2 separate regions of the Homo sapiens genome follow, and region 2 is linked to region 1. The links come from fine-mapping of genetic effects on gene expression. Tissue or cell type: whole blood. Region 1 holds a variant in brackets; the other region holds the start of a gene. All regions are shown on one strand. Distances are between the middles of the regions.

Region 1 (5,335 bases):
GGTAAAGATAAAGGTGCTTTGTTGTTTTTCTAAAAAGGACTTCGCTGTTGCTTGAGTCACTCATAACTTGATCAATTATTTGGAGCTCTAAAAGCTTCCCAGTTGCTAGGAAACCACACCTTGGAGGCTGGCAAACCATTGTTAAAGTTGTTCCTAAAGTGCTGAACTTCTACAGTGACTTTGGAAAGTAGCTTGGGGAACAAAACAAAGCAAACAAAACAGAAAAGACTCGGGTTCCCTTTTCTTTCCGTCCAGAAGTGATCAAATCAGCTAAACTCACTGTTTCAAGCTTTCCTCTAACTAGATGTGTTTTTTTCTGCCGTTAGCCAGAAAGGCCCTTTCCTTCCTATTTTAGTCACAGAATAACCTGTCTCTTTAGGACAGTGGGGTCCTGTGCTGAATCCCACCCCCAAAGATGGGAAGAACTCGGGTGCTGCGTTTTGGGAAGCCCCGGCTGAGATGAGTGTATAACTGGGGCTGAGAGCCGAGAGCCTGGCCCAGCAAGCCAGGCAGTGAGGTGACCCGGTATCCCGCTCCCCATTTCTGCTGGAGCTGGAAGAGCCCCAAGGACACCAGCCCCATCAGAGGGAGCTGGGCCCAGAGCTGGGTGGGGCAGCCGACTACTCCCTGCAGAACACCTACCGCCTGCCTGACACTGGTGGCTGCTTTGTGGACATGCTTTTGAAAACCTCGTGAGGGTGATGTTATTGTCCCCACTTTATCCAGGGGTACCTGGGCACGGAGCAGGGCGGTAACTCACCTTGGATGTCTGTGGCAGCCTCCAAGATGGTCCCAGCAATCCCCACCACCTTCCTGCTGCTCCTTCCATGTAGCAGGATAGGTCTGTGCGACCAGTAGAATATGGCAGATGTGACGAGATGTCACTTCTGAGGTTTGCTTACAAAAGGCTGTGGCTTTCAGTTTGGCTGCTCTCTCTCGGATCCATCACTCTGGGTGAGGAAGCCATGCCGCGAGCAGCCCCGTGGGGAAGCCTGCACCTCAAGGACCTGGAGCCTCAAGCCAACTGCCACATGGTGCACTTGGAAACAGGGATGGCTGCCACGGCCCACACTCGCCTGCGGCTCCGGGGAGACACCCAGCCAGAACCTCCTGGTGAATCCACTCCTGGATTCCCTACCCCCACAGAGTATAAGATGACGAATGTGGCTTTAGGCTGTTAAATTCGGGATAACCGATACAGTGCCAACACTGGTAAGTGACGAGGCTGCAATGAATCCCAGGTATCCTGTGGCTGCATCTCCACCTGCATGGGCCATCCTGTACCTGGCAGGCCCCATCCTTAGCCTCTTTAAAAGTCCAGGAACCTTGGAATGTTTTTCTGACATCTCCTAGGCTGCTGGATTTACCAGGAAAAGGGACGGACCCACACCTTTTCCCTGTTTGAATCCATTGCATTTCTTCCAGGTGTTTCAATCCCTTCTGACTCGATTTGCTTTAATGAAGCTTGAGGCAAGTGCAATTTTCTGCCCATGGGGCTGTAACACTGTTCAAAGTCATCCTGGAGCTAAGCTAAGTGGAAAAAACCATATGGCATTGTCGCCTTCTCAGCCTGACCTGGCATGCACTCTCACCCTCATCTGTCATGCCTCCTGCTTTTCCACCTGGGGGGCTGAGAAGTCCGGCCATCGAAACCTTGGTTCCTGCCAGCCACGGGAGTTTGGAAGCTTTATCAGATTCCTGAAGCCTCGTTTCCTCATGGGAACAGTGCAGGTGAAAGCACCTTCCTCTCGGAACCGGGGGGAAGATGAGAGGAAATTAAATAGATGTATGGCCCCGCAGCAGGACTGGCGCTCTCCATTGTGTCTGAAATTGGCAGGTTCTTGGTCTCACTTACTTCAAGAATGAAACCACGGACCCTCGCGGTGACTGTTACAGTTCTTAAAGGCGGCGTGTCTGGAGTTTGTTCCTTCTGATATTCAGATGTGTTCCGCGTTTTCCTCCTTCTGGTGGGTTCCTCCTCTCGCTGGTTCAGGAGTGAAGCTGCAGACCTTCACGGCGAGTGTCACAGCTCATAAACGCAGTACAGACCCAAAGAGTGAGCAGCAATTAGATCTATCACAAAGAACAAAAGAACAAAGCCTCCACACCACAGAAGACAACCCGAGGGTGTCAACATTACTGGCTCCAGCAGCCTGCTTTTATTCCCTTATCTGGCCCCACCCACATCTTGCTGATTGGTCCATTTTGCAGAGAGCTGATTGGTCTGTTTTACAGAGAGCTGATTGGTCCGTTTTGCAGGGTGCTGATTGGTGCGTTTACAATCCCTGAGCTAGACACAAAAGTTCTCCAAGTCCCCACTAGATTAGCTAGACACAGAGCACTGATTGGTGCCTTTACAAACCTTGAGCCAGACACAGAGTGCTGATTGGTGTATTTACAGTCCCTTAGCTAGACACAAAGGTTCTCCAAATCCCCACTAGACTCAGGAGCCCAGCTGGCTTCACCTAGTGGATCCCCCAACCGGGCTGCAGGTGGAGCTGCCCGCCAGTCCCGCGCCCTGCGCCCTCACTCCTCAGCCCTTGGGCGGTCGATGGGACCCGGCGTGCCGCGGAGCAGGGGGCGGCGCTTGTCGGGGAGGCTGGGCCGCGCAGGAGCCCACGGCCAGGGGGAGGCTCGGGCATGGTGGGCTGCAGGTCCCCAGCCCTGCCCTACGGGGAGGCAGCTGACGCCCGGCGAGAATTCGAGCGCAGTGCTGGCACTGCTGGGGGACCCGGCGAACCCTCCACAGCTGCTGGCCCGGGTGCTAAGCCCCTCACCGCCCGTGGCGGGCGGCGCCGACCGGCTT[T/C]TCCGAGAGCGAGGCCAGCTGAGCCCCCGCCCACCCGGAACTCTCGCTGGCCCGCAAGCGCAGCGCGCAGCCCCGTTCCCGCCCGCGCCTCTCCCTGCACACCTCCCCACAAGCCGAGGGATCCGGCTCCGGCCTCGGCCAGCCCAGAGGGATCCGGCTCCGGCCTCGGCCAGCCCAGAGAGGGGGCTCCCACGGTGCAGCGGCGGGCTGAAGGGCCCCTGAAGCGCGGCCAGAGGGGGCGCCGAGAGCGAGCGGGGCTGCCAGTACGCTGTCACCTCTCACCATCACTGCCCTTGCTTGCTCTACGGCTGCTCAGACCCAAGGGGCAAGTTTCTCCAGGTATTTCCAAACCAGGGAGGGCTTTGTGTTTAGTTTAAGTCAAGGAGGCTGTCCCCTTTTCGAGGCTGTTTGGATTTCTTTCAGCAAAAACTAGCAGAAGTTATTACGCAGGAACTTTTTGTAGCATATAAAGAATGAATCCCGATAGGTACTGTGATGGTTACCGTTAGGTGTCAACTTGATTGGATTGAGAGATGCCTAGAAAGCTAGTGAAGCATTGTTTCTGGGTGTGTCTGTGGGGGTGTTGCCAGAGGAGACTGAAATTTGAGTCAGTGGACTGGGAGAGGAAGACCTCTCCTCCATGTGGGTGGGCACCATCCAATCCGCTGCCAGCGCGCCTCCAACTAAGCAGGCAGAAGAAGGTGGGAGAAGCTGGCTTGCTGAGTCTTCCACCTTCATCTTCCTCACATGCTGGATGCTTCCTTCCACTCCTCCTGCCCTTGGACATCAGACTACAGGTTCTTCGGCCTTTGGACTCTGGGACTTACACCAGTGGTTTGCCGAAATCTGTGCTTTCTGCCACAGATTGAAGGCTGCACTCTTGGCTTCCCTACTTTTGAGGCTTTTGGACTCGGGCTGAGCCACTACTGGCTTCCTTCTTCCCTAGCTTGCAGACAGCCTATCAGGAAACTTTGCTTTGTGATCATGTGAGTCAATTCTCCCTGATAAACCCCCTTTCATAGACACATAGATCCTATAACTTCTGTCACTCCGGAGAACCCTAATATAGTTACCAATAGAAACCTTACAACTTTCCCTAGATTCTGCAGGCTGGGTGGAGTTCACCACCCTTTGCTTTGAGGTATCAGTGGAGGAAGAACAGAGGCACTGGGGTCAGGACAGAATGGGGCCAGACCCCAGCTCCAGAACCTATGACCGCATAGGTTTGAGAGACCTGCGTTCCAGCCTGGCCTCTGCCTTTACTGTGTGGCCCTGGGCAGGTTCCCTAACCTCTGAAGCTCAAGTTCCTTACCTCTAGAACAGGAGCAATAATAGGACCTGCCTCATGGGTTTATGTAGAATACGATAGAGTGCAAAGTGTGCGACACAAGGCCCAGCACACAGTAGGTGTCAATCAGTGGTCACACTTGTCACTATCCTATAGGATGGGCCTTGGGCACACCTCCTAACTTTTCCAGCCTCAGTTGGCTCCTCTGTGAGATCAGGATTATAAAGATCTGCTTTTCAGGGTGGCTATGATTTGTTGAGAAATGAAGTATCTATCACACCATCATTTACACAATCATTCATTCATGGAGCCATTCATTCCTTCAATCATTTATTCAATCATTCATGAATTTATGGATTTAGTCCATCATCCATTCATTCTCCAGTTCTCAAGGCTCCTGTGCTGGGCATGGTCAAGACACGCTCCCTTCCAATGGGCAGATAGGTAAGCGGGGGCCTGAGGAAGTGCAGGGACTGTCATCAGCAAACCCTGCTCCAGAGTGGAGACAGAGCAGAGCATGTTCCACCCAGGAACCCCTTGGTTTGGAGGCATCTCCATCTCCTGCCAGCCCAGCTCAGGTTCTGCCAGTCCCTGAACCCTTCTCACACTCTCCACCCCACCCATCAGGAGTCATATGGCAGGGCTGTCGAGGCGTGTGAACCAGAGCAACTCCATCTTGAATAGGAGATGGGTAAAATGAGGCTGAAACCTACTGGGCTGCATTCCCAGACAGTTAAGGCATCTAAGTTACAGGGTGAGATAGGAGGTTGACACAAAATACAAGCCATACAGACCTTGCTGATAAAACAGTTTGCAGTAAAGAAGCCGGCCAAAATCCACCAAAACCAAGATGGCCATGAGAGTGACCTCTGGTCGTCTTTGCTGCCACACTCCCACCACCGCCATGACAGTTTACAAATGCCATGGCAATGTCAGGAAGTTACCCTATATGGTCTAGAAAGGGGAGGCATGAATAATCCGCCCCTTGTTTAGCATATCATCAGAAATAACCATAAAAATGGGCAACCAGCAGCCCTCGGGCTGCTCTGTCCATGGAGTAGCCATTCTTGTATTCCTTTACTTTCCTAATAAACTTGCTTTCACTTTTCTCCATGGACTTGCCCTGAATTCTTTCTTCCACGAGATCCAAGAGCCCTCTCTTGGGGTCTGGATTGGGACCCCTTTCCGGCAACATCTTTGCTTCCTTTCTCTTTAAATTAAATTAAATGCTCATGGTTTTT
Region 2 (5,000 bases), 40 kb before region 1:
GCGCTTAACTGGACTTTAGTTTTTGCCCCAATCTTACAGACTTTGGATGGGAAATTCAGCCCATTCACCGTGTTACGAAGGCGGGTAGCCATGGCTTTATTTATTTTATCTCATCTTATGTTTACTATTATTAAGCTTATTGTTCTTGCTATTATTTACTTTCCCCCTTAATTTTGCTTCCTTACTCTCCCTCCACCCCTCCCCCAACTTCTACCTAGTAATTCAGGAGTTCTACTCTGCTTCTTTCCCGTGAGTTGCTACTTTCCAATTCCTGAGAGTCATAATTCAACCAATCTTTCCCTGATAATGTATTAAAAGTAAATGGTAATGAAGCCCCCTCCCCACCACCAATAAGGCTTTCCTTCCCCAGCTGAGAGTCATAATTAAACCAATCTTTCCCTGCTAATGTATTAAAAGTAAATGGTAATGAAGCACCCCTCCCAACCACCAATAAGGCTTTCCTTCCCCACTCACCAAATCAGATCCTTTTACTTCCTCCTTCTCCCCTCAACCAAATGTGATCTTAAAATATTCTGACTTCTCTGTGATAAGATTCTATTTTTTTTTTTAGTTCCAGGCTAATACAACTTTCTCTTGAAGCATGTAGCTTATGTTTTAAGAATCCTTATGTGGCACTGCTAGTACAAAATCACAGGCACATGTGGATTATCCATACTGTATATTTTGCAAGGGTCATTGCTTAACACCACTTCCTGTTCTGAGCGTTTGCTCTATCTTGAAATCTCTACTGTGATTGAACTGTCTCGGTGACGGGGGAACTCTGAATATCTTCCTCTGAAAGGGGACATCACTGAGGTCCTTTCTCTGTCTTGCCACAGTGGATATTTTCTCTCTTTTGTCCACATAGATGAATCCTGTAGTAGCCATGGTAAGGATCCTTGATCCTATCATCAGAGTCCCTGGACATTGCTCCAAAGTCCCCTAGGAACCACTTCAACTTTTCTCCCCTTAGATGTGACCTGTTCTTTCTGGAACTCTGCAAGACCGTCTCTTTATCCTTGGCATCTGGGATTTCCAGGGACACGTTCTCCTGGCACTTTGCTCACCTCTGTTTCCCCTCCAGCTCTTCCTGGAGTACCTGTCCTTTGTGCAATACACCTCCTGGAACTGTCTTTCCAGTCTCTGCTTTTTGTCCTGATGATTTTCATGTGCTTTTCCTCTACATCATGAAGCATTTACTCCACATTATCTTCCAGTTTGCTCATTTGTCCTCACCTCCACTCTTCTCTTTCTGAATTTGCCTGTTGCTTTTTCAGTCTCTTAGCTCCGTGGAGTATGTTCAGTGTTGCTGTGTTCTGATAGAGGCTCCTTAAGCCATCTTGTAGATTTTTTGTTGCACTTCCTCTCTTCCCTTAGACCTCCACAGGAGGAACTTTTCAATCTGTCCTCTTCTCTCTGCTTAATGAGCCCCTGCAAAGGGTTTGGGAAGTGCTTCAGCCTCTCTGTGATTGTGTGTTCACATTAATATTTATTATTTTCTTAAATGTGCATAAATCTCACAATGTGAACAGTGATCATCTTTGAGTGATTTTTTTTCTCCTTTCTACTTTTAGTAATTCTCCAAATTTTCTACAGTTAGTGTGTGATAAGGTGGAAAGACATCTTCAAGACTTTGGGCAAATAACTATGTCTGAGCCTCAATTTTCACATCAATAAAAAATGGGCTCAGTGCCACCTCCCTCCTTGGGTCACTAGGGGGGCCCTTGAAAGCTGTGAAAGCCCCTAAGCCAACCTGGACAGAGCAGGCGAGGCTGACGGCAGGTGTTCTTCCTTCCTCTGTGAGCCTCACAGGGTCACACGTGAACATTGGGGATCGGGGGTGGGCAGTGGGGGCAGCTGGAGAATCAAATGAGGTGACTGACATGAACTACGCCGCTTTGACAAAAGTCCTCCGAAGTAGTGTGTTCAGAACTCATCTCCAAAGCCATCTGGAATATTTGCTCCCAACATGTTGGTAAGCATTATCTCTGACAGTCACTCCGAGCCCCAGTTTCTGCTGTGATAACTAGGACAGGTAGCTCAGGTTGGTTGTGGGGACCAGAGACAGAGCAGGCAGGGTCTCACGTTCCCCAGGGCCTCTCAAGGATAGACCCTCGCCCTCATCTCCAAACCACGCCTCCCAGACAGGAACCAAACTCCCAGAGTCTCCAAACTGCCTGAGCCTTGCCCACTCCCTGGGCTAACACACACTTTAAAGGAATCCCACAGTCACCGTGTGAAAAGCTTGCTACACTGCATTTGATTCTGGGCACTGAAAGCAGTACTTGGCTGCAGACACTCGTTTCAAACAGGCCCCATTTTTCCATCTCTGCTGCTGTTATTAGGGGAGCCCTTAGACTCTCTTGCAGCGCCGGAATAGGCGCTCAAGACGTGTGTTAATATTGCAACAGCAAATATAATGAATCTGCAGTTGGGGACGCTGAGGCCGGAGTGGTGGATGAAAGGTGGCCGGAGCCTTTTCCACGGGTCCAAACCACCTGTTACAGGAGAAGGCGAGCGGCCTCGCTAAGCAACTGGACGTTCCGCGGGCGGGGCGGGGGCGGGGCCGGGGCCCGAGTCCGCTCGGAAACTTTCGCTGTGGGCGAGCCGGACCCGCCTTCTGGCCCCTCGGGCCCAACCACGCAGGGGGAGTGCCGGGCCGCAGCTAGGCGAGGCGCACCGTGATTGGCGGAGATGTGGAGTGATTGGCGGCTACACCGGCCACTCAGCAGGCCGAGCTGGCGCCGCATCCGGGGGGCCGCGTCTGGAGTGGAGGGAGGCCGAAGGCCCCGCCCCTGCCCCGCCCCCTCGTGCAGAAGGCCGCGCTAGCCGGCTCTTCAGCAGCGAGTGCAGATTGCTCCCCCGCGGCCGCAGATCTCCCGTTTGCGCCGCGTTCAGCTGCTCCCGAACAACTTTTCTGCCGGCCCAGAGGCCCCAGGGCGTCGCAGCGCCGCGTGCGGCCCACTCACGGGCCGGTGAGTACTTCGGCGCTGGGGCAGTGGCGCGGTGGCTGTGGGCAGCGCGCAGGAGGCGGGCAAGAGCCCTGAGGCACTGTCCTCTTCGGGCCTCAGTTTCCCCTTCCGAGCTGATGGGTGGCTGGCCCCAAAGTCCCGACAAGGTCCCCGAAGTTGGAGGGCCGGGGGTCCCGCCCGCTCTGCAACGCGCAAGGCGACCCCTGTTCCGGGCCCGAACGGGTCACCCGGGGGGCGCGCCCCGGTCCCCCGCGCGCTGTCGCCTGGAGCCCCGCCGCGGGCGGGACAGCAGGCCCGAGAGGCGGAGCGGCCGGCGGGCAGGCCCCCTCCCCGCGCCCCGCGCCATCCCCCCCGAGTTGCCCCGTCATGCCCCTCCCCCGCGGTCCCGGGACCCACGGCCGCCCTCGGTGCCCGCCCGGCCGTTGGAACGCGCCTGGGCCCCCGGGAGGTGTTGTGGGGGGGAAGGGGGGTTCAGTCCCCCAGGGGGACCCGGCCCGCCCGAGGGGCAGCTTAGGGGTCATTCTGAATCCCCACAGCCCACTTAGGAGCGCTGTGGCAGTTCCTCTCTCTCTCGGGGCCCCTCAGTAGAGAGTTGAGGGGTTTCAGTGGCAGCACCTGGACCCTGCCTCGTATGAACTCCACCCTCTGGATCATTAGCTTTTTGTTTGATCAACGAAAACTTTCTGGAGAATCCTACCCAGCCCTTTTGGATGTGATGGCGCCCTGGCCTCTCACCCACTTAGCAGATGATGTTATGAATTCCAAGGAAGTCGCATTTGTGCAACCCCCCACCACCCAGATTTAACCCTCTCAGTAGCCTTAGGCGGAGAAGTTATAGTCCCCGTTTGACACCCCAGGAAGCTGAGGCTCAGCAGGGTTTGGTGCCAGCCCAGGACCACGAAGCTGATGGGGCAGAGCCTGGTGTGAGGCCTCTGCCCTATCTCTCCAGAAGCAGCCCCGTCTCTCCTCACCTTGGACAGTGACCCCTGGCATTTGGCCCAGGGCTTTGCAGTTTGTAAAGGGCTTTCTCTTATGCCAGCATCCATCACTCAAGGAGCTGTGCCCTGGGTACCCCATGTGCTGGCTGCCTGTTCTCTGCAGCAGGAGAGGGAGCCCACGGGAAGCCCAGAGGCCACCTTTGTCACTGTCGCCACCTGTTTACTTCTGTGTCCAAGGGTCTGTGATTCCCATGGGGTCTCCGTTGTATCCAACCAGGGATTTGGAGGGAGGCTTCTCCACATTTCAGCCTCTTTTCCCTACCTGCTGGTTTGTCCTCCCTTCGCAGACACAGGAAAAGTTGGCTGGGAGACCCCATCTCACCTTCTTTCCCAGGATGGAAGAGCATGGAGGGCGTCTCTGACTTAGGCCTCCCCTGCCCATCCCGGACCAGTGCTGGACAGGCTTCTGGGGCTGGTCACAGAGGGGACCTCAGCTCAGTCTCAACCCCCAGAGATGTCTGCACTGCCAGACAGACCCGAAACACCCATCCTTGACGGTGGCAATAAGAATCATAATAGGTCGGGAGCTTTATGCCTACACGGCTCCCCTCCCCTCCCACTTCCCTACTTCCGGAAGTGGTACCACCACAGCCAGCCAGCCCCAGCCACAAACCAGACCACCCCCTGTGCCCTTCATTCCTCACTCCCAGTTGGGTCTCTCCTGGCTCCTGAGCCTCACTCGGATGCCTGCCCTGGTTCAGGACCCTCGCCTCTCCCTGGACGACCCCCAGGCTCCTCCCTGGTCCCGATCCGGGCCTGGCTGCACGCAGCCCTGCTGGTTCTTCAGCTGCCACTTCCCTCTGGGCTATCGGGTCAGGTCCGCCTCCCGAGCCAGGAGCCGGCATTCTTTCGGGCCCTCAGGGACCCGCCTCGCTGCTCACTCAGCCTCTCCCTCCTGTGTCCTCTCTCCAGCAGTCACCTCCCAGCCACCTGCGTGTTCCTGGCCACAAGCCTGGCTCACTGTCCCTCTGCTGCCTCCTCTTCTGGGCACAACCCCTGCTGGAATGCCCAGCCACCTCCCAGCTTGCCT

What was found. PIP is the estimated chance that this variant, and not a neighbour inherited with it, causes the effect.
Region 2: it holds the start of WFS1, and the variant in region 1 is fine-mapped to the expression of WFS1 in whole blood (INTERVAL, PIP above 0.99).

Annotation. Positions count from the first base shown.
Region 1 is chr4:6,306,507-6,311,841 of GRCh38, forward strand. No RefSeq gene overlaps it. Among named protein-coding and RNA genes, the nearest start is that of WFS1, 39 kb to the left of the region's middle. The variant T/C (reference allele first, on the strand shown) is at 2,807.
Region 2 is chr4:6,267,040-6,272,039 of GRCh38, forward strand. It overlaps WFS1 (wolframin ER transmembrane glycoprotein), which reads left to right and starts at 2,811. Exons shown (of 8, transcript NM_006005.3): 1 at 2,811-2,975. RefSeq lists a silencer at 2,789-2,898.